Linked DNA regions of Homo sapiens. The protein of the gene in region 1 purifies or fractionates together with the protein of each later gene. This does not show direct contact. Each region holds a gene or a part of one and is shown in the gene's direction. Other genes may lie near its edges. The genes, in order: LRRK2, DNAJA1, HSP90AB1 and NCL.

Evidence for each region.
Region 2: the proteins of LRRK2 (region 1) and DNAJA1 purify together in Homo sapiens (co-immunoprecipitation; 4 studies listed by BioGRID and IntAct, with this or other methods). This does not show direct contact.
Region 3: the proteins of LRRK2 (region 1) and HSP90AB1 purify together in Homo sapiens (co-immunoprecipitation; 6 studies listed by BioGRID and IntAct, with this or other methods). This does not show direct contact.
Region 4: the proteins of LRRK2 (region 1) and NCL purify together in Homo sapiens (co-immunoprecipitation; 3 studies listed by BioGRID and IntAct, with this or other methods). This does not show direct contact.

Annotation. Positions count from the first base shown.
Region 1 is NC_000012.12:40,360,969-40,367,999, forward strand, and holds part of LRRK2 (leucine-rich repeat serine/threonine-protein kinase 2), read left to right. Parts: exon of another isoform or gene 1-2,216; intron 2,217-2,433; coding exon 2,434-2,586; intron 2,587-3,873; coding exon 3,874-4,082; coding exon of another isoform or gene 4,083-4,165; exon of another isoform or gene 4,166-6,037; coding exon 6,038-6,109; exon of another isoform or gene 6,110-6,675; coding exon 6,676-6,797; 3' UTR 6,798-7,031. UniProt on the Homo sapiens protein: Serine/threonine-protein kinase which phosphorylates a broad range of proteins involved in multiple processes such as neuronal plasticity, innate immunity, autophagy, and vesicle trafficking.
Region 2 is NC_000009.12:33,021,125-33,028,296, forward strand, and holds the start of DNAJA1 (dnaJ homolog subfamily A member 1), read left to right. Parts: upstream 1-4,148; 5' UTR 4,149-4,259; intron 4,260-5,350; 5' UTR 5,351-5,360; coding exon 5,361-5,492; intron 5,493-5,688; coding exon 5,689-5,866; intron 5,867-7,172.
Region 3 is NC_000006.12:44,250,094-44,254,407, forward strand, and holds the end of HSP90AB1 (heat shock protein HSP 90-beta), read left to right. Parts: coding exon 1-61; intron 62-197; coding exon 198-506; intron 507-954; coding exon 955-1,120; intron 1,121-1,324; coding exon 1,325-1,515; intron 1,516-1,643; coding exon 1,644-1,791; intron 1,792-1,905; coding exon 1,906-2,174; intron 2,175-2,951; coding exon 2,952-3,285; intron 3,286-3,395; coding exon 3,396-3,505; 3' UTR 3,506-3,790; downstream 3,791-4,314. UniProt on the Homo sapiens protein: Molecular chaperone that promotes the maturation, structural maintenance and proper regulation of specific target proteins involved for instance in cell cycle control and signal transduction. Undergoes a functional cycle linked to its ATPase activity.
Region 4 is NC_000002.12:231,461,485-231,469,333, reverse strand, and holds the start of NCL (nucleolin), read left to right. Parts: upstream 1-4,849; 5' UTR 4,850-4,980; coding exon 4,981-4,998; intron 4,999-6,017; coding exon 6,018-6,134; intron 6,135-7,316; coding exon 7,317-7,794; intron 7,795-7,849. UniProt on the Homo sapiens protein: Nucleolin is the major nucleolar protein of growing eukaryotic cells. It is found associated with intranucleolar chromatin and pre-ribosomal particles. It induces chromatin decondensation by binding to histone H1.

The DNA of each region.
Region 1 (7,031 bases):
TATAATTGTATTTGTTAAAGTAGTTTCTCAATACCACTAAATCTACTGGCTTTCAACATTGGCTGTGCATTTAGAAACCACTAGGTAGCTGAAAATAATATGATACCTGGGCCCTACCTCAGACCAATTAAATCAGACCAGTTAAGCCTGGGATGGGGATCAGATTTTTTTTTTCAGGTTCTCAAGTGATTCTAAAGTATATTTGAGGTTAAGATATACTGCGGAGTGCAGTGTATTATAAGTTCCCATGAATGAGGATTTTTATTTCTGTCTTTACATATTTATTTACTAGTATGTGGTTAACATTTGGATCAACTCATTCTCATTCTGTAATACCCACATTTTAAAAAATGAATGTAAAAATGTCTTTTATTATTTTTATTTTTCAAATTTAATTTTAGATTCCAGGAATACATGTGCAGGTTTGTTACAAAAGTATAGTGCGTGATGCTGAGGTTTGGAATACAACTGAACTCACAACCCAGAAAGTGGGCATAGTGCTTGATAGGTAGTTTTTCATCTTTGCTCCCCTTCCTGTAATTTCCACTTTTAACCCAATTATACAAGCCTGAAAACCTTTAAAAAGAAAGGGCCTCCAGTTTATTTTTTTATTTCATAGCACATTTTATGGGATTATGGATATCAGTTAACTCTTTAAAGTTCCATATAAGATTTGGAGCATAGATGCTTTACTAGAGAGCATCCATAAAGATCAAGCTCTCAAAGATGCTCATCTCCCAAAAGAGATTGGGACCTAGATGCATAAACACTTAAATATAAATATTTGCTCTCTTCTGAACAAGTATCTCCTGTGGCCTTGGTCTCTACCCCACAAAACAGACATCACATCACTAATCAGGGGTTGCCTCATCATCAGTACCCTCATCATCATCAGTACACACCGACTGAGAGGCATGTTGGGTAATGAAAGATGACTGCCTTTGAAGCCGGAAGACTCCATAGGACTTTTGGAGTTCTAGGTCTGCAACATGTTTTTAGTCCTAGGTCGGCAAGCATGATGTTAGTCATAGGACCTTGAGCAAATTATTTAGCATTTGTACATGTTTCTTTCTACTATTAAAAACATTGAGATTTATCATATTTTATGTTTTTTTATTAAGGATCAAGCAAGATAACACACAAAAGTATTTTATAAAATACGGAAATTCCATGCAAAACTTTGTCCTAATTGGAACTATTTTCTATTAAATACAGCAAATATCCAAGAAGGAATTACCTAAAGCGTAGTGGCTCTCTGACAACACATCATATTTTTACCTCCTTTTCCAGAATAGAAAGAAAAGGGGGAGGAAAAAAAATCTTCCTACTCTAGGATATACTAATGATTGTTAAATCTTTATGGTATTTTCATGTTATCTATCTGATTTAAATGCAATTTTGACTATTTTTACATATTCCTCGTTGTTCATTCATACTGTAGTGCCTTCTTCTATTCCCCCACTTAACAGACTGCTTGATTATATCAGAGGTGCTTATCTGTGCAACTGTTTACTGGACGAGGGGTATGTAGAAAATACATTGTCCTCATCCTTATGAAATTACACTCATAATCTAGTGTGAGGGATGCACTAATAAAGACAATTTTATATTTAATAAGGTCTATAATATGACAGTGACACCAGTGGGGAAAAGGGACTGGTTGGTCTATTTTGATAGGTCAGGGAAGAAATCCAGAGGAGCCGACATTTAAGTTCATCCTCAAAGGCCAAGTAGGAGTTTGCCATGCTGATGTGGCCCAAGGTAGCCAATCTGTTTGTGAAATATGTACAATGCCAGATGTCTTAGGTTGAAAGGGAAATATTTTAAGGTGTTCGTAATTTTTCTTTATGTTTAAAAGGGGAAAATGGCAAATATTTTACTTTCTGTTTATGTTTGGATGATGTGGATTTTTGTTTTCTATAATTTGACTGGCTTAACTGCAAAGATATCCCTTGCTTTAAAATTTGAAGACACTGCAACTAAATTTTATTTCAGCATTTTATATTTTATAACTCTAGGTATAAAAGGCTAACACTTAATTTTCTGAGCATTCATGAAACAAAGTTTTGCAAGAACATTCAAAAGTTACAGATATAATATTTCCTTCAGAAATTTAGATATAGTACAAAATTCTACAAAGAGCCACATAGAATTGAAACTAAAAGTAAGACCAAAGTAAACATTGGACATAATCTTTATTTTATTATCACAAGAAATTAATATAAAGTAACCAAAAGTAAGTAAAGTACCAAAGCATGTTATATATTCAATTCAGAATGGTTAGGGAAGAATATGAAATAATTGCAATAGTCTAGCTTGTTTAGTTTTCAAAATAGTGTTTTTACATTAAGAACTAATATAAGGTTGTATTACACGTAGAAATTTTAAGAAGAAAACAAATAGTGATGACTTTCTATTTTTTTTTCTCTGTAGGTTTTCTTATGCAGCTTTCAGTGATTCCAACATCATAACAGTGGTGGTAGACACTGCTCTCTATATTGCTAAGCAAAATAGCCCTGTTGTGGAAGTGTGGGATAAGAAAACTGAAAAACTCTGTGGACTAATAGACTGCGTGCACTTTTTAAGGTAAATTCTGTGGTTTTTAATTTTATTCCCAAAAGAATTATCTTTGCACTTCATGTGTCACAGAGGAAGGATTTTTCTTCCTTTCTGCCTCTGAATAGAGAATTTTTTTAAAATGCAGAAAAAAATTTGTAATGCTTCTCAGCACCATCTTTTCAGATCAAGAAAATTTTGTCTTCAGAACATAAAAGAATAGGCACATAATGTGCATAGTTTTCTCATGGTATTACAAAGAATGTTCTCGAATGAAAATACTACATTATTGAAAATGAGCATATTGGAGTCTCTGCTAGCTTTGACATAGTTCTGTCACAGTGTCAAATATACTATTTATAATTAAATTATGGGCCCCAGGATTATCTGCTCTAAAGAAAAAGAGTCACAAAATAATAGACAAATATGGGGGGAAATGCAATGGACTGACCGAGGCGCTAAGGAGTGGGGATCAAGACCCCAGAATGAGAGCATAGTGCTTAGTCTGATGCAGCCTGTGAGTGACAAATCCATAGCAAGCACATTCTTTCTGTGCTGGTGCTGAGAAACAGGACCATTTTCAAGCTTATTTGCTAGCCACTTTATATTTTTATTTTGTTTTGATTTTACCATATAGATCTATGATACTCTTGAGAACATTTTAGATTACACACTATATCTGTAAAAGGATACTTCAAAGTTTCCTGTCTTAGATTCATCTGACAGTTTTTCTATGGATTGTGAGAAGGGCTCACAGTTTATGTTCAGAAGGGCCAACAGGTCTCCTTGATAAAGGGTTCCTTACTTCCTGAAGTACCAAAACGATTAGGATTCTTTTATTTCTGGACACTTCATTTTTGTCATGAATTAGACTATTCACTGGTTCTGGGAAAAAATTCAGTGGTTTGTATCGATATCTTTTACATGTGAATGACTATAATTTTATGTTCCTTTGTAACATTGAGACTTCATGTAAAACTTTTGACTCTAACTTTTTTTTTTCTTTATCCTGGGCACATGTATGCTATTTTTACTGAATTAGATAGCTTTGGTATTTATAAAAATTGTATCCCTCTTATTCATAATTTCCTGAAAATGAAGGGCTATTGTTATCTTTGATAATTTATGCTTCAAGTAAAGAAGTGTGGCTCTTTGGCATCTGTATTTAGCAAAATTTGCTTTGTATAATTTTAATGATGCATAATGGTGGTGGTGTCATGTTTTAATAATTTAAAATGTTGTTTATGTTATCATATGTAAATAGCATTTATCTCTTAATTGGTGGTAAAATTATTAATGTATACTTTATGGTTCTAGGGAGGTAATGGTAAAAGAAAACAAGGAATCAAAACACAAAATGTCTTATTCTGGGAGAGTGAAAACCCTCTGCCTTCAGAAGAACACTGCTCTTTGGATAGGAACTGGAGGAGGCCATATTTTACTCCTGGATCTTTCAACTCGTCGACTTATACGTGTAATTTACAACTTTTGTAATTCGGTCAGAGTCATGATGACAGCACAGCTAGGCAAGTTTCTTTCCTTTAGATATTTTTCATATTCTCTAAGTCTTATAAAATATGCCTTTATTTTACGTTTACATTTTCTCTGAACTTTCCAGTGTCATATGGATGGTCTTGGAGGGTCACACAGTGAAACATAAGACTGGTATAAATTGTGAATAGGGTCATTACAGAAGTGGAGGGAGTAAATGCTCTCAGTCCCACAAGAGAAGCAGATTACTGCAGCTGAACACTCAGTTTGGGTCTTACTTGCTTTTTTCCTTTTTACCTAAGGCAAAAATGGGAAATACATGGTATTGAATATATTTTACTTTTTGAGCAAAGAAAATAAAGAAAATGTTTGTTTTAATCATAGTCTAGCCTCCCAGCTTGTTAAAGAATCTCATTTGGTTTTTCATTCTATAACAAATCTTTTTTCTTGCAGCAATACATGCTGAACTGCACAACCTACAAATATTGACAAATCATATTTTACTCAAACTTTGTCTTTTTTTGCTTCTATTTTTATATTTAAATATGATAAAATTGTGATAGCACATAAAATATATTTTCTGCATAAATATATTTGCGTCTTCCTTTGATAATAATTTGTTTTAGAAAATAACAATAATAGCATATATACAAAAGTTTACAAAAACGACACTATGGGGTTTAATTCTGAAAAAAACTAGAATTTATGTAACTTTAGCAAATAATGAATGTTTTGAACATGGTGAAGAAAATATATTCATTGCAAGTATATGTGAAAGAGGAACATGTGTTTTTCTAGCACCTTCACCTATTTTTCATTTATAGACTTTAGAGTTGCACAGGAGTTACAATTAGATGCTCTTAATGACTGTAAACTATTAAGATACATGTCCACACAAGCAGAGCAGTAGGTCTCTCAATAGGTTGTCTCAGTAGTCTTATTCTACCAAAGTTGTTGCATTCTCTAGTTGAATTGTATGTACTTTGGGACCCAAATAGCTTGCTTATAACTGAAGTTATAGTGGAATGTCTATGGGTTATAGTTTGATTTTAAAATAAAGATCAATTGGAGGATAGCCTACAAGGTGCTGCATGAGCTGGCTTCACTGTACCTCTCCTGCCTCCATCATCTACCACATTCCTACCAGATCTTGCTTGTCTAGATGAACATCCAGTTCTTCTCAATTACTATGCTATATTTTGCCTCAGGGATTTGCACATGCTGTTTATTTCTTTGCTTAGTTAACATAGCTTTTTTTCATGCTTATTTAACTCATATGCTTTGAAATGTTAGCTCCTGTGTCAAAACCTCTGAGAAGCCAACACTGATTAGGTCAAAGTTCCCGCTTTGGGTTCCCATAACAGCTTTCTTGCATAGTTTTGATCATGGTCATATTTTTTTTTCATTAATGCTAGTCTCTTCACTAGAATATAAACTCCAAGACGGTTGGGTTAGTGTGTTTTTGTTTACCCCTTTTTTCCCAGGATCTAGCCTAGGGCCTACATAGAAGACTTTTGATGCAAATTTGTTGAATAAATTAGTGAATGATTTGAAAAGAAAATATGATATTTTGACATAGTATCAGTATATCCATCCATCTAAGTGTCCATCTAAATACTCATATTTGTACTAAATACTCATATTTGTACCTTACCATATCCAAAGAACTTTTCACACACATTACCTCGTTTAACATTGTAACTTTGGGAAGGGTAATGTATAAATACTGAGCCTATTTTATAGAAAGGTTAAGCTGTTTTCTCAGACTCACATAATTAAGAATTGCAGCAAGGAGTGGATCACAGATTTTGTTATTTTTTAAAAAAATGCTGGTCTTTATTCAATATAATTGAAGGGTCACCTAGAAAATAGAATTGTGAATTCAGTTCCAAGGTATTTGTGTCTTAAACTATGAACAACTTTACTTTTTTTTCAGGCCAGTTTAATATATAGTTTTAACAGAAAACTTACATATTTTGTTTTTGTAAAGGAAGCCTTAAAAATGTCATGCTGGTATTGGGCTACAACCGGAAAAATACTGAAGGTACACAAAAGCAGAAAGGTAACATTTAGAAGGATACTGTTTTCCAAACAGGGCAATGATGTGAATGATGGTAACATATTATGTGTTTCATAAATTTGTAGAAAATATTACATATGGTATAATCAGGAATTTTAATTGGTAGTTTATAGTGTAAAGAACTTAGACATAAATTTTCAAAATTACAAGTGATATGAAGTGTTAAATATTTATATTTTCAGCTGAAGTAGAGGTGTCAATCACTAGCTCAACCTTAAACGAAATGTGAATATTTTTTACAACTTATCTATATCTACATAATGTCTAATTTTGAACAGTGTTTGAAAAAGCTTTTATTTCTTTTAGAATATGAAATGTTAATTTATTAAATGTTGATACTCTATTTGAAATTTAATAGTTTCTATAATGTATTATAAAACTTTTCCAAGTATAGTTTTTTATAAATAATAATTTAGTACATTAGTTATAGCTGTGTTTATATTTACATTTATCTAAGTCAACTAAAAATACATGAGCCAAACTGAAATAAAATAAGAATGTTTTATGATGGATCTTTGAAACATGATTTCATTTTTTTCTTTTTCTAGAGATACAATCTTGCTTGACCGTTTGGGACATCAATCTTCCACATGAAGTGCAAAATTTAGAAAAACACATTGAAGTGAGAAAAGAATTAGCTGAAAAAATGAGACGAACATCTGTTGAGTAAGAGAGAAATAGGAATTGTCTTTGGATAGGAAAATTATTCTCTCCTCTTGTAAATATTTATTTTAAAAATGTTCACATGGAAAGGGTACTCACATTTTTTGAAATAGCTCGTGTGTATGAAGGAATGTTATTATTTTTAATTTAAATATATGTAAAAATACTTACCAGTAAATGTGTATTTTAAAGAACTATTTAAAACACAATGTTATATTTCTTATAAATACCAGTTACTTTC
Region 2 (7,172 bases), on another chromosome or scaffold:
GTCTCAAAAAAAAAAAAAAAGAAAGTATGAAATATCCCACTGAAATAAAATATAATGGTAAGAAAAGAGGCCATCCATGACAGCAACAACAAAAAATGCCTAGTAACACATTTAAGAAGAAATGATGAAGACCTAGTTTAAAAAATGAAGAAAATAAATATACAGTTATATGTTCATGAGTAGGAAGATTCGACATTTTAAATGTGTTAATTCTCTCCAAACTGATATATAAAATCACTGTAATCACAATAAAACTCACAATGGGATTTGGGGGGAATCTGCCAGAAATATTCCTAAGTTCCTCTGGAAGAATAAACATATTAAAAAAAATACAAGGAATATTCTAAAAAGCAAGAACAATGAAGGGAAGTAGTACCATGTATTTCAGTGGAAATTAAGTATACATTAAAAGTGGTGGCCAGGTGTGGTGGCTCACGCCTATAATACCAGCACTTTGGGACACCAAGGCAGGACAACTGCTTGAGCCCAGGAGTTCAAGAACAGCCTGGGCAACATAGGAAGACCCTATCTCTGCACATACAAAAAAAAGGTTGGGGGGCGGATTTCACATTAGTCAGGAAAAATAAGATTAGTGTTAGACAAACTAGTTTGCCATTTGGAGAAAAATAAAGATCAGTTACTTACAAATAATCCTCAGTCCTTACACCAAAATAACTTTCAGATGGAATAAAAAATTTAAGTTTAAAATGGAACAATGATTCCAGATGCAGTGGCAGGTGTCTGTAGTCCCAAGTACTGAAGAGGCTGAGGCAGGAGAATCACTTGAGCCTAGGAGTTCGAGGCCAGCCTGGGCAACACATCAAGGCTGTTAATTTAAAAAAAAAAAAAAAAAAGGGAAACAATGAAAGTACTAGACCTAACCTGTAAACCTGGGACAACAGATTTATATTTATAATGCTGGACTGATGAAGGGGAAGGTGGAGAGAAGAAAAAGGCCAAAAAGGAAGAGTCACAATTTATCTACATAAAAATTAAAATCTTTATATGGCCGAAAAATATATATATAGATACTAAGTAAAAAGCGAAGAATATACTAAAGAAAACAATTGTAACACATGACAGACTAATATCTACCCCTAAAAGGGCTATTATTAAAATAGTGGAATTACACCACAGAAAAATGGTAAAATAATATGAACAGTTGACAGGAGAGTCAGTAAACATTTAAAACATGGTTAAACTTACTAACAAAGAAACTCGAAACAATAAGATATCACTTTTTATCTCCAAGCTTAGCAAAGATTTAACAACAAAAGGCCCTCATATTGGCAAGGCCCACTCACACACTGCTGGAAGCAGTTACAAACCAGTATGGAAACTTATTTATTACAATTTTAAATCTACATTCATGTTGACTCAGCAATTTCAATTCTAGCTGTCCATCCAACAGAAATACTTGCATGAGTACTCAAAGCTGTATTTGCTAATTTCTCTGCAGCAGTTTGTAAAACACTGGAAATTGCTGAAATATTCATCAGTAGGGGAATAAATTACGGTGCCTACATACTACGCCATTAAAAATAACAAGGCAGATTAGTTATTTATCCTGGCATAGTAAGATGACAAAGTGAAAAGGGCAAGCTGTAAACAGCTTGTATAATGATCCCATTTCTGTACAAACGAAGACCACATACAAAGTTATTGCCAGTTTTTTTATTTTATTTTACGTAAGAATGCTTCTTAAAAGTGTTAACTTTTTTGTTAGTTTCGTTTTTAGACAGGGTATTGCTCTGTCGTCCAGGCTGAGGTTCAGTGGTGCAATCACCACTCACTGCAGCCTTGACCTCCCAGGTCCATCCTCCTGCCTCAGCCTCCCAAGTAGCTGGGAGTACAGGCCCACACCACCACACTAACTCTAATTTTTGTAGAAACGAGGTCTTATTATGTTGCTCAGGCTGGTCTCAAACTCCGGGACTCAAGGGATCCGCCTGCCTTGGCCTCCCAAAGTGCTGGGATTACAGGCTTGAGCCACCATGCACCCCCTACTCTTCCTTTATTAGCATTTAACACTCAACTGTTTGTTTCTGGTTCCCTATGTTGTGAGCTCCTTGAAGGCAGGGACCACGACTTATGTGATTTTTTTTTTTTTCTGAGACTCGACAGAGTCTTGCTCTGTCAACCAGGCTGGAGTATAGCGGCACCATCTCTGCTCACTGCAACCTCCGCCTCCCAGGTTCAAGCGATTCTCCTGCCACAGCCTCCTGAGAAGGTGGGACTACAGGCACGTGCCACCATACCTGGCTAATTGTTTCTATTTTTAGTAGAGAAGGGTTTCACCAAGTTGGCCAGGCTGGTCTAGAACTCCGGATCTCAGGTGATCCGCCACCTTGGCCTCCCAAAGTGCTGGGATTACAGGTGTGAGGCACGGCGCCCGGCCTGACTTACGTGATTTTTGTATTACAAAGCCCTAGTACACTGCCTGGTAATATTAGACGTTTATTAACGGTTGGTTTAAACAAAAAACTTTATACCAGAGGTGATACTTGAGAAGGCAACACCTAAGATTGAAAAAAATCAGGTGTCTGTCAGCCAATGCAAAAGCATACAAAGGTGAAAAGGCGTATATGGGAAACTGCGGATAGTTCTGTGACTGGAATGCACAGTTAAAATTAATGAAAGAGAAAAGGCTGAAGAGGCAGCATGAGGATGCTTCCAAGGATAAAGTTCAAAATTCTTAGCGTAGCATATATACCAACAGACAAAGGCATGCCCTAACTAGCTTTGAAGCCTCACCTCCGGCTATTCTAGCTCCCTTAGCTATGGCTATATCCAATTAGTTGCAATTTCCTAAAAACATCATATTCTTCCACACCTTAGTATAGCCTTCCCCTGTGCTTTGTCCACTGCTCTCCTCCCATTTTCAAAACTCAGCTCAATTGCCACTTTCCCAAAGAAATTCTCTCTGATCTATCAGGTTAATATAGGAGGCTCTCCCCTACTGACTTCTACCTCATGGTTTCTCTGGCAGTCTGTTGACTTGTTTGGCTTCTCACTAAAGTCTAACTGGGGCTTTTCAACTCTGCATCTCCAGTTCTGTTTTTGTTTTAAATCGAGACGGGGTTTCACCATGTTGCTTGGGCTGGTATCAAACTTCTGAGCTCACGCAATCAGCCCACGCTGGCGTCCCAAAGTGCTGGGATTACACACGTGAGCCACCGAGCGTGGCAAACTCCATCTTTCTTGGTGCTAGATACTGACATACCTGCTGTGTCCCTGGATAAAGAAGCGGACCCCAATTCCCATTAAGCCCCCGTGGTACCATTTTCAAGTCCGAGGTCTTACGTTGCAGATTGTACATCCAGGTTCCCTGACCCGTAGGATTTAAAAGTGAGGTCAAATAATTAAACAAATTGTTTTAGTCAGACACTCTTGCGGCTACTCTGTAGCCAAACTGGGTGAAAACCTGACCAGAGGAGTCCACGGCCCTCTGTACATCAAAGACGGTCCAAACGTCTCACTGTTTAGCTCAGTCCCAGACACACTGAGCTCAATCTGCACGAATCAGCGAGGTCCAGGGCAGATAACATGTGTCTAGGGGCCTGGACTTGCACAAAAAGCCTTAACAACTTCACAATTTGATTAATTATGCCGCCTTGGACCACGCGTGAAAAACAGCAAGACCCAAGGCCTATGCTATTGGTCTGGGGACTAGACCCACCTGGCTCAAGCATTTTTTGCTCGCCACGTTCCCAAAAAGAGAAGAGGCGCCCGTAAGAGGGGGGGGGGGGGGGGCAAGACTGTTCCAAGAGCTTTCCCGTTCACACACAGCTCCCGCTGGGTCACTGTACTCGAGCCCTTCCCGCCCTCGCGGGCCCAGGCGGCCACCCCACAGGTTTGGGAACCCTAGGACTTGCAGTGCTCCTGGGCCATGCCCCACCAGCCGGAGACTTCCGCACTCTCAGGCTCGCTGAGTGGAGAAAAGGGCTCCAGAAGATTCCACGAGCGCCGGGAAGCCGCGCTAGCACCAACACCCACAAGGCCTTTCGGCGCAGCTCCTCCCGACCCGTGCGCCCCCGCGCCGTTGCCCAGGTAACGGCGGGGCGGTGGCAGCGGCCGAGAAGGGCGGGACTTCCGGCGGGTGACGCGCCCGGGTTCGGCTACAAAAGAGGACGGCTGCGGCGCGCCGGGCGGAACTTTCCAGAACGCTCGGTGAGAGGCGGAGGAGCGGTAACTACCCCGGCTGCGCACAGCTCGGCGCTCCTTCCCGCTCCCTCACACACCGGCCTCAGCCCGCACCGGTGAGTTTGAGCCCTCGCGCTGCCCCTAGTCCCCTGGCTGGCGCCATTGGCGCCGGGAAACCGATGGAGCCGCGGTCGGGAGGCAGTTGGCCGCGTGGGTAGGACCGCTGTCAGTTCCTGGGCCCACGATTTCCCTTTTGGAGGGCTGGTGTGGTGCCCTGGCAACCCATCCCCGGCACGCACAGTGAATGGGCCCGAGACCTTTCCTAGACCTCCCTCCTTCCCCAGCCTGGGATCTCCAAGGAGCTACTGTCTTCGGCTGCCCCTCCGTGCGCGCCCCCGCGGCCCCCCTCCCCGTCCGTGCTCGCTCGGGGTGGGGGGGGGGAGTGGGGTTGGCGACCCTGCGCACGCGCACAGGGAGGCAGGGGCGAGGGGCTGCGGGGGGAGCCGGGCGGAGACTGCGGCTTTTGGTTTCGCTTTCTCTGTTTCCCCTCCCTTTGTTTGTTGAGGGCTGGGCTTTCCCCACCGCCACTTGGGTCCAGGGTGGGAGGGAGAAAGGAAGGAAATCGGTCAGCGCCAAGTGCAAGGGGAAACCTGGCAGGTAAACTCTGCCAGCCTGAGGGGCGAGAGGGATTCGGCTGGAGAAGCTGTAAGCCGTGGGCGGTGGAGGGCTTGCTGTGTGGAGCCAGTAACCTGTTCTATAAACCACTCCCCCCCACCACTGTGTGCCCAGACGTCTTTTTCTGGAGAGTATATGGAGTTTATCAGATTTGCCAAAGACAGTGATAGTGTAATGACCGGTAGACTGAACATATCAGTGCTTCTTTTGGTTACAACTGTCACCGCCTCTAGGGCAAACGGGAAGAATCCAGATAATAGTTGTGTTATATTAGTATGGAAGCTTTGGTGTAGGAAAATTGGAACCAGCTGCTAGAAGGCGGCTCTCAGATTATTTCCCGATAATGATTATTTGTTTTGTCTGTTCGAGTTTATAGCTGAATTATCGCAGGAATTGTTACCTTTTTGGTGAAATTTAGGGAAGGTGGTGTTCTTATAATCGGATTTTGCAAAGAGATTGCTCGGCCTTAGCTCTCTTTTTTATTAAAAGCTACCAGTTGAAAGCCGGTTAAAGTTGCATTTTCTTATTTCAGGCAGTAGAAGATGGTGAAAGAAACAACTTACTACGATGTTTTGGGGGTCAAACCCAATGCTACTCAGGAAGAATTGAAAAAGGCTTATAGGAAACTGGCTTTGAAGTACCATCCTGATAAGAACCCAAATGAAGGAGAGAAGGTGAATAGTATCTACTCTTAAACGTATCTGAATAGTTCTTTGCCAGACGTATAGTATTTCTATTATGGCCTGAAATCGAGTATCTAATATAGTAACTATGATCACTTCTCGGCCTTTTTAGCTAAGATCAAGTGTAATGTAGCTAGGTAACACTTGTTTTTTAAAAAATGAAATTCACTCCTCTTTTCTCAAACAGTTTAAACAGATTTCTCAAGCTTACGAAGTTCTCTCTGATGCAAAGAAAAGGGAATTATATGACAAAGGAGGAGAACAGGCAATTAAAGAGGGTGGAGCAGGTGGCGGTTTTGGCTCCCCCATGGACATCTTTGATATGTTTTTTGGAGGAGGAGGAAGGATGCAGAGAGAAAGGAGAGGTAAGAAGAATCTAGTCTTTGTGCAGCTAACTAAAGTTAGCTGTTGGTCAGAGCAGATCTTTGAGAAATCACCCATTTTAAATGCTTGTTTACATGTTGGTATAATGTTGCAAACTGACCACAAATTGCCTCTGATTTATGGTGTCGTGTTTTTTTGTTGTGGTTTTTTTTTTTTTTTTCTTGAGACGGAGTTTCCCTCTTATTGCCCAGGCTGGAGAGCCATGGCGTGGTCTCAGCTCACAGCAACCTCCACCTCCCGGGTTCAAGCGATTCTCCTGCCTCAGCCTCCCAAGTAGCTGGGATTACAGGCATGTGCCACCAAACCCGGCTAATTTTGTATTTTTAGTAGAGATGGGGTTTCACCATGTTGGTCACGCTGGTCTTGAACTGCAAACCTCAGGTGGTGATCCACCTGCCTTGGCCTCCCAGAGTGCTGGGATTACAGGTGTGAGCCACCATGCCCAGCCAGTGGTGTCGCTTTTTTTAAAATGAGATTTAAGGGGCCTAAAAAATAGCCAACAGAGTGGTAGCAAATGACTGCTTCCAAAAATCTTAGATATTATCAAACAAATTATGAGAACAGGCCGCGTGCTGTGGCTCATTCTGTAATCCCAGCACTTTGGGAGGCCGAGGTGGGTGGATCACTGAGGTCAGGGTTCGAGACCAGCCTGGCCAAGATGGTGAAACCCCATCTCTACAAAACTACAGAATTAGCTGGGCGTGGTGGTGGGCATCTGCAATCCCAGCTCCTCTGGAGGCTGAGGCAGGAGAATCGCTTGAACCCTGGAGGCAGAGGTTGCAGCGAACGGAGGTCACGCCACTGCACTCCAGCCTGGGCAACAAGAGTGAATCTCTGTCACAAAAAACCCAAAAAAATCCAAAAATTAGCCAGGCATGGTGGTGCGTGCCTGTAATCCCAGTTACTCAGGAGGGCTGAAGCAGGAGAGTCGCTTGAACCCGGGAGGTGGAGGTTGCAGTGAGCTGAGATCGCCCAATTACACTCCAGCCTGAGCAACACAGCGAGACTCTTGTCTCAAAAAAAAAAAAAAAAAAAAAAAAAGACAAAGTATATAGCAATATAATTTTCCAAGCCCTTTTTACAGATCTTATTTGGTGTTCCCTCACTCCCCAAAGGAATTTGATGGTAGGTACAGTGGCCTTTTTCAAATGGGAGTAAGTTAAAGTTCAGAAACCTAAAACTTCTTCAAGCTCATATAGCAAGCCAACAGAGCCAGGGCTGAAAACTGGTTCGTTGCCTGCCATCTATCTATTCTTGTTTCAGCTTTATTGTGTCAAAATTATGTAT
Region 3 (4,314 bases), on another chromosome or scaffold:
GCGGGTCAAAGAAGTAGTGAAGAAGCATTCTCAGTTCATAGGCTATCCCATCACCCTTTATGTGAGTATGGACTTTTAAATCTTTTACACTTAACGTGCAGGATGTTTCCTGTTCTGGAGAATCTCATTGTCCCTGGCTTTTGCTTTCCCTGGTAGTGTTTTGTACTCCAAGGCTAACTTCTGTTTTTGTTACTTAGTTGGAGAAGGAACGAGAGAAGGAAATTAGTGATGATGAGGCAGAGGAAGAGAAAGGTGAGAAAGAAGAGGAAGATAAAGATGATGAAGAAAAACCCAAGATCGAAGATGTGGGTTCAGATGAGGAGGATGACAGCGGTAAGGATAAGAAGAAGAAAACTAAGAAGATCAAAGAGAAATACATTGATCAGGAAGAACTAAACAAGACCAAGCCTATTTGGACCAGAAACCCTGATGACATCACCCAAGAGGAGTATGGAGAATTCTACAAGAGCCTCACTAATGACTGGGAAGACCACTTGGCAGTCAAGGTGTGAGAAGCCTTTGCATGTTGGCTCAACATGCACATATGGAGAGGAATGAGTTAGGTGGAAGAGTGTTGGGTAATAGACACACGGAACTTGTCCAACTGATAACAGAAATGTGATAGCCATGTGATTTCACTTACTGATTACCCTGTCATAGTGAAGTGCCATCATTTCTAATGACCTCACTTTCTCTTCTTATGGAAATCTGGGTAATGTCTATTGGCAGCCTTACACATCCAGGGTTCTGATCAGAGGGGACTGTTTTCTACATACAGCTAGTACCCATCTAGATCGTGGAGGGCATTAAGGCTCAGTTTTCTCAGGAGCTGCTTGTTGTGTGTGCTCTATCCCTTAGGCTTAGGGAGGATCATTGTTCCACTTTTAGATAATTTGGTGTTGGGGCTAAAAGGTCCTCTTTTGAAATGTACCACTTATTTTTGGTTTCTTTCAGCACTTTTCTGTAGAAGGTCAGTTGGAATTCAGGGCATTGCTATTTATTCCTCGTCGGGCTCCCTTTGACCTTTTTGAGAACAAGAAGAAAAAGAACAACATCAAACTCTATGTCCGCCGTGTGTTCATCATGGACAGCTGTGATGAGTTGATACCAGAGTATCTCAGTGAGTATCTCCTTGGCCTAATTTAGTTGGGTGAAGTCTTGGGAGGTTTTAGGCATTCTGCTAGGATATTCTAAGGTAACAGTTTTCTGCAATACATAGTAGGTGTAAGGGTTCAGGAGGCTATTAGAGCCTTCTGTTTGAATCTGGGGACCAGGTCTGGTCTAGCTGTTTTTTACTGAGCTTTCTCACCCTGGTTGATGGCAGATTTTATCCGTGGTGTGGTTGACTCTGAGGATCTGCCCCTGAACATCTCCCGAGAAATGCTCCAGCAGAGCAAAATCTTGAAAGTCATTCGCAAAAACATTGTTAAGAAGTGCCTTGAGCTCTTCTCTGAGCTGGCAGAAGACAAGGAGAATTACAAGAAATTCTATGAGGCATTCTCTAAAAATCTCAAGGTAAAAAGGCAAATAATGCTTATTCCCTTTACCACTTTCTTAGTAATAACAATAAATTATTCCATTCACATTGAAAGTGAAGTTATTGTAGTTAAGCTGGATTGTTTTTCCTCTTCCCACCCTTCAAGCTTGGAATCCACGAAGACTCCACTAACCGCCGCCGCCTGTCTGAGCTGCTGCGCTATCATACCTCCCAGTCTGGAGATGAGATGACATCTCTGTCAGAGTATGTTTCTCGCATGAAGGAGACACAGAAGTCCATCTATTACATCACTGGTGCGTTGACTCTGATTGAAGCCTTTTTGGAGGAGTGGGGAGCACAATTAGGGCTTCCTGGGAACTGGCAGTATGAGGCATTTTAGTCACTGAGTTCATTTAATTACCCTACAGGTGAGAGCAAAGAGCAGGTGGCCAACTCAGCTTTTGTGGAGCGAGTGCGGAAACGGGGCTTCGAGGTGGTATATATGACCGAGCCCATTGACGAGTACTGTGTGCAGCAGCTCAAGGAATTTGATGGGAAGAGCCTGGTCTCAGTTACCAAGGAGGGTCTGGAGCTGCCTGAGGATGAGGAGGAGAAGAAGAAGATGGAAGAGAGCAAGGCAAAGTTTGAGAACCTCTGCAAGCTCATGAAAGAAATCTTAGATAAGAAGGTTGAGAAGGTAAGCCATTCTGGGGCTAGGATATATTTTGTAACATCTTCGAGGTGGGCTCCCTCACAAGCATGTTTCTATACAATTAGTGGTTTGAGGCAGCCTATTTACTGTTTCATGCCTTCTTGCCTCTTGTTCTCTTCTCTAGTCAGGTTTAAGGCTATTTTAATAAAATTTGGCACAGATTAGGCATTGCTTCAGTTAACTTCTGAGAGTAGATAAAATACCATCATTTTCTTTTTTTTTTCTTTTTTTGAGATGGGGTCTCGCTCTGTCACCCAGGCTGGAGTGCAGTGGCACGATCTCTGCTCATTGCAAGCTCCGCCTCCTGGGTTCACGCCATTCTCCTGCCTTAGCCTCCTGAGTAGCTGCCACTACAGGCGCCCGCCACCACACCCCGGCTAATTTTTTGTATTTTTAGTAGAGATGGGGTTTCATCGCGTTAGCCAGGATGGTCTCCATCTCCTGACCTTGTGATTCGCCCACCTCGGCCTCCCAAAGTGCTGGGATTAACAGGCGCAAGCCACCATGCCTGGCCGATTTTTTTTTTTTTTGGACTGGATCTCGCTCACTGCAAACTCAAGTCTCCTGAGTGGCTGGGATTACAGATGTGTGCTACCACACCCGGTTAATTTTTTGTAGACAGGGTTTTGCCATGTTGGCCAGCATGGTCTCAAACTCAAGTGGTCTGTCCACCTCCTCCCCCTGCTGGAATTAGGCTTGACAATGCCTGTTTTCTCTTTCAAAGTGGTAATGTCAATCTAAGGCTTTTGTGATCGTCCACAGGTGACAATCTCCAATAGACTTGTGTCTTCACCTTGCTGCATTGTGACCAGCACCTACGGCTGGACAGCCAATATGGAGCGGATCATGAAAGCCCAGGCACTTCGGGACAACTCCACCATGGGCTATATGATGGCCAAAAAGCACCTGGAGATCAACCCTGACCACCCCATTGTGGAGACGCTGCGGCAGAAGGCTGAGGCCGACAAGAATGATAAGGCAGTTAAGGACCTGGTGGTGCTGCTGTTTGAAACCGCCCTGCTATCTTCTGGCTTTTCCCTTGAGGATCCCCAGACCCACTCCAACCGCATCTATCGCATGATCAAGCTAGGTCTAGGTAAGTAGCTTTGGTACTTGGTGTGGCAAGGAGTTTGTGCAACTCGTCTCCTCTATGGATTTGACTTAATGCTATTTGGTCAAGTCTCACATGGCTTAATTTTACTTCAGGTATTGATGAAGATGAAGTGGCAGCAGAGGAACCCAATGCTGCAGTTCCTGATGAGATCCCCCCTCTCGAGGGCGATGAGGATGCGTCTCGCATGGAAGAAGTCGATTAGGTTAGGAGTTCATAGTTGGAAAACTTGTGCCCTTGTATAGTGTCCCCATGGGCTCCCACTGCAGCCTCGAGTGCCCCTGTCCCACCTGGCTCCCCCTGCTGGTGTCTAGTGTTTTTTTCCCTCTCCTGTCCTTGTGTTGAAGGCAGTAAACTAAGGGTGTCAAGCCCCATTCCCTCTCTACTCTTGACAGCAGGATTGGATGTTGTGTATTGTGGTTTATTTTATTTTCTTCATTTTGTTCTGAAATTAAAGTATGCAAAATAAAGAATATGCCGTTTTTATACAGTTCTGCTTTCCCTTGTGAAGTGGATGTTATCCTTCCCTAGCTTCTTCATCCCTCCAGCTCTTGCTGTTTTCATGAGCACAGCAAGTTGAGCTGGTTTTGTAGTGAAAATAACAGAATACCAGTGAGTCTTAAGAGTTCACACACTGAAGCTAAAGGCAGTTTGGAAAAACTACCATATAATAATGCCCTTTCAGTCAACCAAAACACAGGACCAAGTCCACTGCAGTAATTTAATTTAATAAAATAAAATTATAAGAGCAAAAAGTTACATTTCTAAAGTACCAAAACCTGCAACAGGCTCATGGAACAGAGCCTAGGGATCCAGGAGCATAGGAGGTGGTGGTGCTGGGCAGGGCTCTGCATCCCCTTTCCTCAGCACAGCACCATCTTCACCCTCCTGGGAAAGCAGCATTGGAGCCTACACCGCTTGTGCTTTTCTCACCAGGGTAAGAAATGCAGGTATTTGCAGAGGGGAGTGAGTCTGGAAGGTGGCAGAGCACAGCTAGGGCAAGACTTAAGGGAA
Region 4 (7,849 bases), on another chromosome or scaffold:
TTGAAATGGCAGGTGGCAGGCCAGGCGTGGTGGCTCACGCCTGTAATCCCAGCACTTTGGGAGGCTGAGGCAGGCGAATCAGGAGATCAGGAGATGGAGACCATCCTGGCTAACACAGTGAAACCCTGTCTCTACTAAAAATACAAAAAATTAGCCAGGCGTGGTGGTGGGTGCCTGGAGTCCCAGCTACTCGGGAGGGAGGCTGAGGCAGGGGAATCGCTTGAACACAGGAGGCGGAGCTTGCAGTGAGCCGAGATTACGCCACTGCACTCCAGCCTGGGCAACAGAGCAAGACTCTGTCTCAAAAACAAACAAATAAAAAATACAAAAAGTAGCTGGGCGTGGTAGCAAACGCCTGTAGTCTTAGCTACTTAAGGGACTGAGGTGGGAGGATCACCTGAGCCTGGGATGTCGAGGCTGCAGTGAGCTGTGTTAACACCACTGGACTCCAGCCTGGCCAACAGAGTGAGTCCAAAAACACACACCCACACCCCCACACACCCACACACCAAAAAACACAAAAAAGTGGCGAGTGACAGCTGAGGAGATCACTGTAGTGGGAACCCCAGGAGGGGGTGAGGAGGGGCTCGCTGGCACAGGGGAAGGGGTGCTATAGAGAAAGACTCTGGTTTCCTTGGGGCTTTGGAGTGGCAGAGAGAGCTCAGGATGTCTGCAAATGTATAGAAATCAGAGGGTGGGAATCCCTCTGGGAGGTTTGTCCTTCCCTATGAAGGAGAAGATAGAGTAACTCTGTTGACAGGGAGGGCAGAGAAGGAGAGGTGAGGGGCCTGAGGGAAGAGGCTTGGCATAGAGGCTGGGGAGAGGGAAATGAGAGCGTTCAGGAGCTCCTGGAAGATGATCTGGGCTAGCAGCTGGGGCTGCTACCAGGGCAGCTGCTGGGAGGGCAGGGCATTTGGAGGCCCCAAATCTGCATCATCACAGATTTCTCTCCAGCAGGGCCCAACCTCCTGGATGGAGAGGCCTGGGAGGTGCAGCAGGGAAGTTGGGGATGACGTTGATCTGGGGCCCACAACACCCTCCTCCAGCAGGCTCAGGGGCCTGCAGTTGTTGGCAACGGGCTGACTCTACCTCTGGGTGAACAGGTGAAGCTTCTCGGGCTGCCTCGGGAAGACAAAGGCTGGGTTCTCTGGCTCCGGCTCCTGGGACCCTGAGACACAGATGCCTCCTCTGGGAAAGGCTCGCTAACACACTAAGCAAGGCCTGGCAAGGGAGGAAGAGCTTAGGGTCCCCCTTTGACATCTGGGGGAAAGTGTTGGGGAAGATCTGGGCAGTATCCAAAGGCCTCAGTGAACCCAAAGACAGAAGGAAGACAGAAGGAGGCTGGACTGGTAAAGGGAACTTCATAGCAGACACCCCAGGCCTTCACACTCAGCAGACCTGGAGCTCTGGAAGCTGAGGCTGTGAACTCCCTCCCGGCCAGCTGGGGTGCCCAGCCCTGCCCTGCTCGGCCTACATGGCAGGGACTCACCCTGCAGGCTTTGTGGGCTGGGTGCTGGCTGGGTCTGGCCAGCCCTACCTGCAACTCAGGGGGAGGAGCAGGGGAGACACAGGATGTCCCCAACCTCCTGACCTTCTGAAGCTTCCCTGGCATCAGCCCGGGCCCTCATCATAGCCTTCAGTGGAAGAGCCTGGAAGGGGGGCAGCTGCTTCCTGCTCAGTCCCCTCGGCTTCTCAGCAATTCTATCCCTCATGTCACCACGTCCCTGCGCTAAGCTCCCTCTTTTTTAAATACTCAATGTGATTTTTCTTGGCTAGTTGGAGCCTAACTGAGACACTTATTTCCTAGAAGCCCAGTCCTGGGAAGTGGAGTTAATCCTTGGAAGCCTGCAGACCCCCTCCAGTGGGCTGTCAGATCCTAGCATGAGTATGAGGCCCACTATGGCCTACTGGGTCTCAGGGGTCAGAAGTGCCCATGGGTGTCCCAAGTGGGTGCCTCACTACACAGGTTTCATGGGGGGCAGCCAGACCACAGCAGCAGACAGAGTTGGGCCGGGTCCATGCAGGCCCAAAGAAGCAGCCAGTGGCCACTCAAGGCAGTGGTATCCCTGCAGCTTCTTGGCTGGTGTCTGAGACTAGTCACACTCCCCACAATAATTAGAGCCATGCTCACACCTCTCACCACCATCTAGTTCTTCCTCTGCTAAAACGTGGAGCACTGTCTCCCAGCCTTGGAGCTCAGGGGCAGCAGATAATCTGAGCCAGCTGGAGCAGGTGGGGTCGCTCTTGGCTGGAACGGCCATGGAAAACCCCAACCAAAGACAGCACTTGGGAGAACATCTATGAAAATGTGAAAGTCCATACCCTTGACCCAGCTGTTCTACAGATATGATTTGTGTAAAATAACGTAAGTGAGAATATTTGCTATAGCAGTTTGTAATGGCCAAACATAGCAAAAAACCCTAACTATCCAGCAATGGTGACTAGATAAATTGTGATCCTTCCACACAAGGAATGCCATGTAGCTATTAAAAAGAATGAGGCAGCTCTACATGTGCTGATGTAGGATGAGTTACAAGATACATATAGTTAACACAAAAGAAGAGCTCAGAACAGTGTATATGATAGCGTTTGTATTAAATATAACAAATATACTTGTCTATTTGCACGTACGGCTGAATCTGGAAGGATATACAAGAGACTGCCACTGCCTTGAGACTGGGAGGCCTAGGGGACAGGAACGGGAGGGAGACCTTTTATTGTGCATCTGTTTGAATCTTTTGAATTTTGCACTATGTGTATACTTTACAATTCAATAAATACTCATGTTTTCAAAAGAAAACAAAAAAGCATTTAGAAACAAACAGGCCAGACGTGGTGGCTCACCTTTGGGAGGCTGAGGAGGGAGGATTGATATAGCTGGGGATGTCAAGGCTGCAGTGAGCCATGATCCTGCCACTGCACTCCAGCCTGGGTGACAGAGTGAGATTCTGTCTCAAAAAAAAGAAACTGGGATGACACAGCAGTGTCTTCACTTATATCCTACGCCTCCACTGCTAGCTATGCGACCCTGGACAAGTTAATTTACCTCTATGTCCCAGTTTCTGTAAAACAGTGGTAACTTTTTGGAAAGGTTATTTTGAAGAGTAAGTTAATTAATATGTAAAGAGCTGGAAGAGCGCCTGGCACTGAATCAGCATTATGAAGTGTTAGATATTGCTATTTTGCTGCCCCAGACCAACTCCAAAGCAACGCCACTTGAGCCATGCCGGCTCTCCCTGCTGCTGCTTCTACCTAAATACTTCATTCATTTAACAAATAATTTTATTTTCTTTCTTTTTTTTTTTTTTGAGATGGGGTTTCGCTCTTGTTCCTCAGGCTGGAGTTCAATGACGCGATCTCGGCTCACTGCAACCTCCGCCTCCTGGGCTCAAGCGATCCTCTCACCTCAGCCTCCCGAGTAGCTGGGACTCCAGGCGAGCGCCACCATGCCCGCTAATTATTTTTTGTGTGGAGACAGGGTCGCATTATATTACCCAGGCCGGTCTCAAGTTCCTGGACTCAAGCGATCCTCCTGCATCAGCCTCCCAAAGTACTGGGATTACAGGCATGAGCCATCGCACCCGGCCTTAACAAATGCTTTTCTTTCTGAGACGGAGTCTCGCTCTGTCGCCCAGGCTGGAGTGCAGTGGGCGATCTCGGCTCACTGCAACCTCCGCCTCCCCGGTTCATGCGCCTCGGCCTCCCAAAATGCTGGGATTGCGGATCTGAGCCACCGCGCCCGGCCTGAGGTGATTTTTAACAAGTACAGCCGTAGCTGCAGATATCCTGGTTCTGTAGGAACAATGAGGTATGGATGGATCCATAGCTGGACCTATGGATGGGATGGATCCCCGGCAGGCCCTGGACGGAGGGAAATGCTCTGGTTTGCTAAGCCCGGCATCGAGTGAGACCCACCCACAAAGCTAACCGTGGAAGTCACTGGCGGCCTCCTTCGCCCTGCCGCCGGGGAACCCTGCCGGTGGCTCTCGACCTGCTCCCGGGCCATCTGGTGACACTGACTTCGCAGCCACCACCTTAATTGGCGCATTCGACCCAAATAATAACCAGGGAACCTGTGGGCGGTCAAAGGCCCGGCTCTGCGGTCGGCCCTCCCAGGCCCCTCTCCCTGCCCTGTGAGGCCAGAAAGTTACTTCTCCGAGGCCGTTCCCCATGTCGAGAAATATCTCCCGCTTGAGGTTCTGTGGGGTAGGGGAGGTTCGTGCATTTCTCACAGAAAACCTCGCACAGACCCGCGACTGCCTTTATTAACAGCTCTCAGGAGACTGCCTGCAGCCGGGGGGTGCCTCCGGCCCCATGCTCGCGGGCAAGCAGGGATAAGCTGTGCCTCCAAAAGGGCCAACGGGAACTCCGCGGTCCCTGAACTTCCGGTGCTGGCGGACTCCTCGCTCCAGGGCCACCAGGAGCCGCGGCGTGAGTGCGTGCCGGGACCGAGCGCGGGGTCTCTGAGGAACTCCAAGGCTGCCCAAGCCTACGGACCCAGCCACATTGGCGAACCGGAGACCGCCCGATTCCACCACCCCCGCGCTCCCCTCACAGCCGGCGCCAAAAACGCCAGTCCCACGACGCAGGCCGGGACCCGCGCGCCCACGGCCCAATCAGCGCGGACCTTGCACAAAGCGAGCCCCGCCCCCACGGCGCCGTTGCCAGCCCCTCCCCCTCCCGTGGCCGCCTCGGCCCGCCTACTCCCCGCCCCGCGCCGTTCACGGTTAGAGGCTCGCGATTGGCTCATGGGGACGGCCGCGAGCTTTGGTTGGTCGGCGCGGAGTCACGAGGGCGCCGTCGTCGCCTTTCCACAGGCGATTACTGGGCAGGCTCAGTCTTTCGCCTCAGTCTCGAGCTCTCGCTGGCCTTCGGGTGTACGTGCTCCGGGATCTTCAGCACCCGCGGCCGCCATCGCCGTCGCTTGGCTTCTTCTGGACTCATCTGCGCCACTTGTCCGCTTCACACTCCGCCGCCATCATGGTGAAGCTCGCGAAGGTAAACGGCCTTGAGCGCGAGCGCAGACGTGTAGGCCTGCTTTCCGAGGGGCGAGCGCGGCGCCGCGGGGAGGAGGGCCTGCGCGCAGTCCCGGGCGCGTTCTAGGGCGCCATGCTGCGGGAAGTCTCGCGCGATTAGTGGGGAGGTCTCGCGGCTTCTGGCTACTTGGTGGCGAGGTGAAGAGCTTCTGCAGGTGCTGGGGGCGGCGAACGCGGCGGGAAAGACAGAGTCACTGAGCGCGGGGAGGGGGCGCTGGGCCTCGGGGTGGAGAGATGAGACCAAACTTTTGCGACGCGTACGAGCTGGGACTCGACTCCTGACGCACGTGCCCGGGAGCGCGGCCTGCCACGTGGGCCGCGCCGCGTGGGTCCTGGAATCTCCAGAGGGACCGGGTGCCTTGGGCCGGGAAATGGCGGTATCGGCCCTAGTCGGAGTCCCGGCTGCGCTCGGATGTCTCCGCCCCGGCCTGGCAAGCCGACACGTGGTGGGCCCCGGAAGGTGGCTCTGCCGCGTGCCTTTTGCGCTGTGTTTCGGGCACGTGGTGGCCTACCAGGTACCCCCACGTGGCCGCGCCGCCTCTTTAAGGGGCGGGGTTGTCTCGCTGGGAAAGGCATAAGCTTCATGAGAAAATCAAGGTAGTCATTTTTTTAAGTGCCTTAATGATCTTCACCGTTAATTTGGATTCAGATGAGGGTGGTAGAATAAAGTACCGGGATTTGTAGTATTAAAACACGGTTGTGCTTAACTAAGGTAACGGGAGGAGAAATCATTTCCTCAGGTTGACTTTTTACCTTAGGGCAGGTTTTCTGTTGGTAAAGCCTGGGAGGAAAAATGTGGGCGGTTGAGAGTAGTCCCTCTTGCATTGCCATCAGGAGTAGTTTCTATGTTAGTTGTGGTGTTTGGCACTATGAGAAATGGATCTGAGGACGGAGATGATGGCGTATGAACACTAATGGCAAAATATGAATGGCCTGAAATGTCGAGGTGGAGGTGTAATGATCTATTTGTGTCCATTTTAGGCAGGTAAAAATCAAGGTGACCCCAAGAAAATGGCTCCTCCTCCAAAGGAGGTAGAAGAAGATAGTGAAGATGAGGAAATGTCAGAAGATGAAGAAGATGATAGCAGTGGAGAAGAGGTAATTTTATCCAACTTAATGCAGAATTATGTTAAAACTACAAAATGGAGAGTTAAGACATGAAATTGGATATCTGTGGCAAAAATAAGATTTTATTCAGGTATGTCTTATTGTAGTGGTTGAGTGTTTCACAAGCTCTTCATTGACATGTCAAGATGTCATTTGGCTAAGTATTTGAATGTGAGTGTAAGACGAGATCTGGGAATTTCTTTTACATGTTCCTCTGCAGGGCTTGGAGTGTGATTTGTTGTGTTAAATCATTACATTTTTCCAGTTTCAACATGTTAGCCTCACCCCCACATGTAGAGCTGGGCATTGTATTCAGAGCTGAGGATAACCTTACCAGATTCCTTTCCTAGCCTCCAATTAAAATTAATTGGTCTCCATTCCATTATATATAAACTTTGTAATACTACTCACTGTGTTTTATAGTTATCTCTGGTGTAGACTGAGGGCTGCCACCTCTCTTTGTGTTACCATTGACCCTCTTTAGCACTCCTGGCCTTTTATTTGCTCACTATAAAGACAGCTGAGCACTGAATTGTGCTCAGGTTTCTCGTTGAGAACTGAATGAAAGTTTTACTCTTCCACACATTGCCTGATAAAACTACGGGATTTTAATGTAGCTAAATGATGACTTTTATCAAACTACCATGCACACTCTTTGATGTGTGATAGTTTTGTAAGGAATATTTATATTTAGCCTATTCATTTTTTGTCTCAGGTCCTAAGAATTGAGCTTCACTGGGCTTGGTACCGCCACCCACTGTAGGAGCCCCAAATGATTTAATAAGTTAATGCTTGGAGCCTCCTATGTGTAAGGTTCTGAATAATTTACACATAGCAATTCATGATCCTTAAACATGTAAGGATGATACTATTACCATTTTCAGATGAGAAAGTTGGGGCTTGGGAAAGTATGAGGTGTAAGAATTCAGAGGGTCTGGTTCAGAGGTATTTTTAAGTGTTCAAAAGAGTTCCTTATGTCTGGGTATTCACCTTATGATAGGGGCTCTGACTTAAGACAACATAACAGAAGCCTGGAGTTTAACATGCTAATGTGTCTAGTGCATGTGGTCTTGAACCAGAGGCATTGCCAGAGTCTAACATCTCATTGGGACCATGGTTATCTTTTTGGGTGTGGGGCTGGACTTACTGGTTTGGTTTTCATTTATTCTCAAGGTCGTCATACCTCAGAAGAAAGGCAAGAAGGCTGCTGCAACCTCAGCAAAGAAGGTGGTCGTTTCCCCAACAAAAAAGGTTGCAGTTGCCACACCAGCCAAGAAAGCAGCTGTCACTCCAGGCAAAAAGGCAGCAGCAACACCTGCCAAGAAGACAGTTACACCAGCCAAAGCAGTTACCACACCTGGCAAGAAGGGAGCCACACCAGGCAAAGCATTGGTAGCAACTCCTGGTAAGAAGGGTGCTGCCATCCCAGCCAAGGGGGCAAAGAATGGCAAGAATGCCAAGAAGGAAGACAGTGATGAAGAGGAGGATGATGACAGTGAGGAGGATGAGGAGGATGACGAGGACGAGGATGAGGATGAAGATGAAATTGAACCAGCAGCGATGAAAGCAGCAGCTGCTGCCCCTGCCTCAGAGGATGAGGACGATGAGGATGACGAAGATGATGAGGATGACGATGACGATGAGGAAGATGGTAAGGAGTTGTCTTGGTAGTTACTGGGCTTCTGATTACAAGGTATCTTGAGATT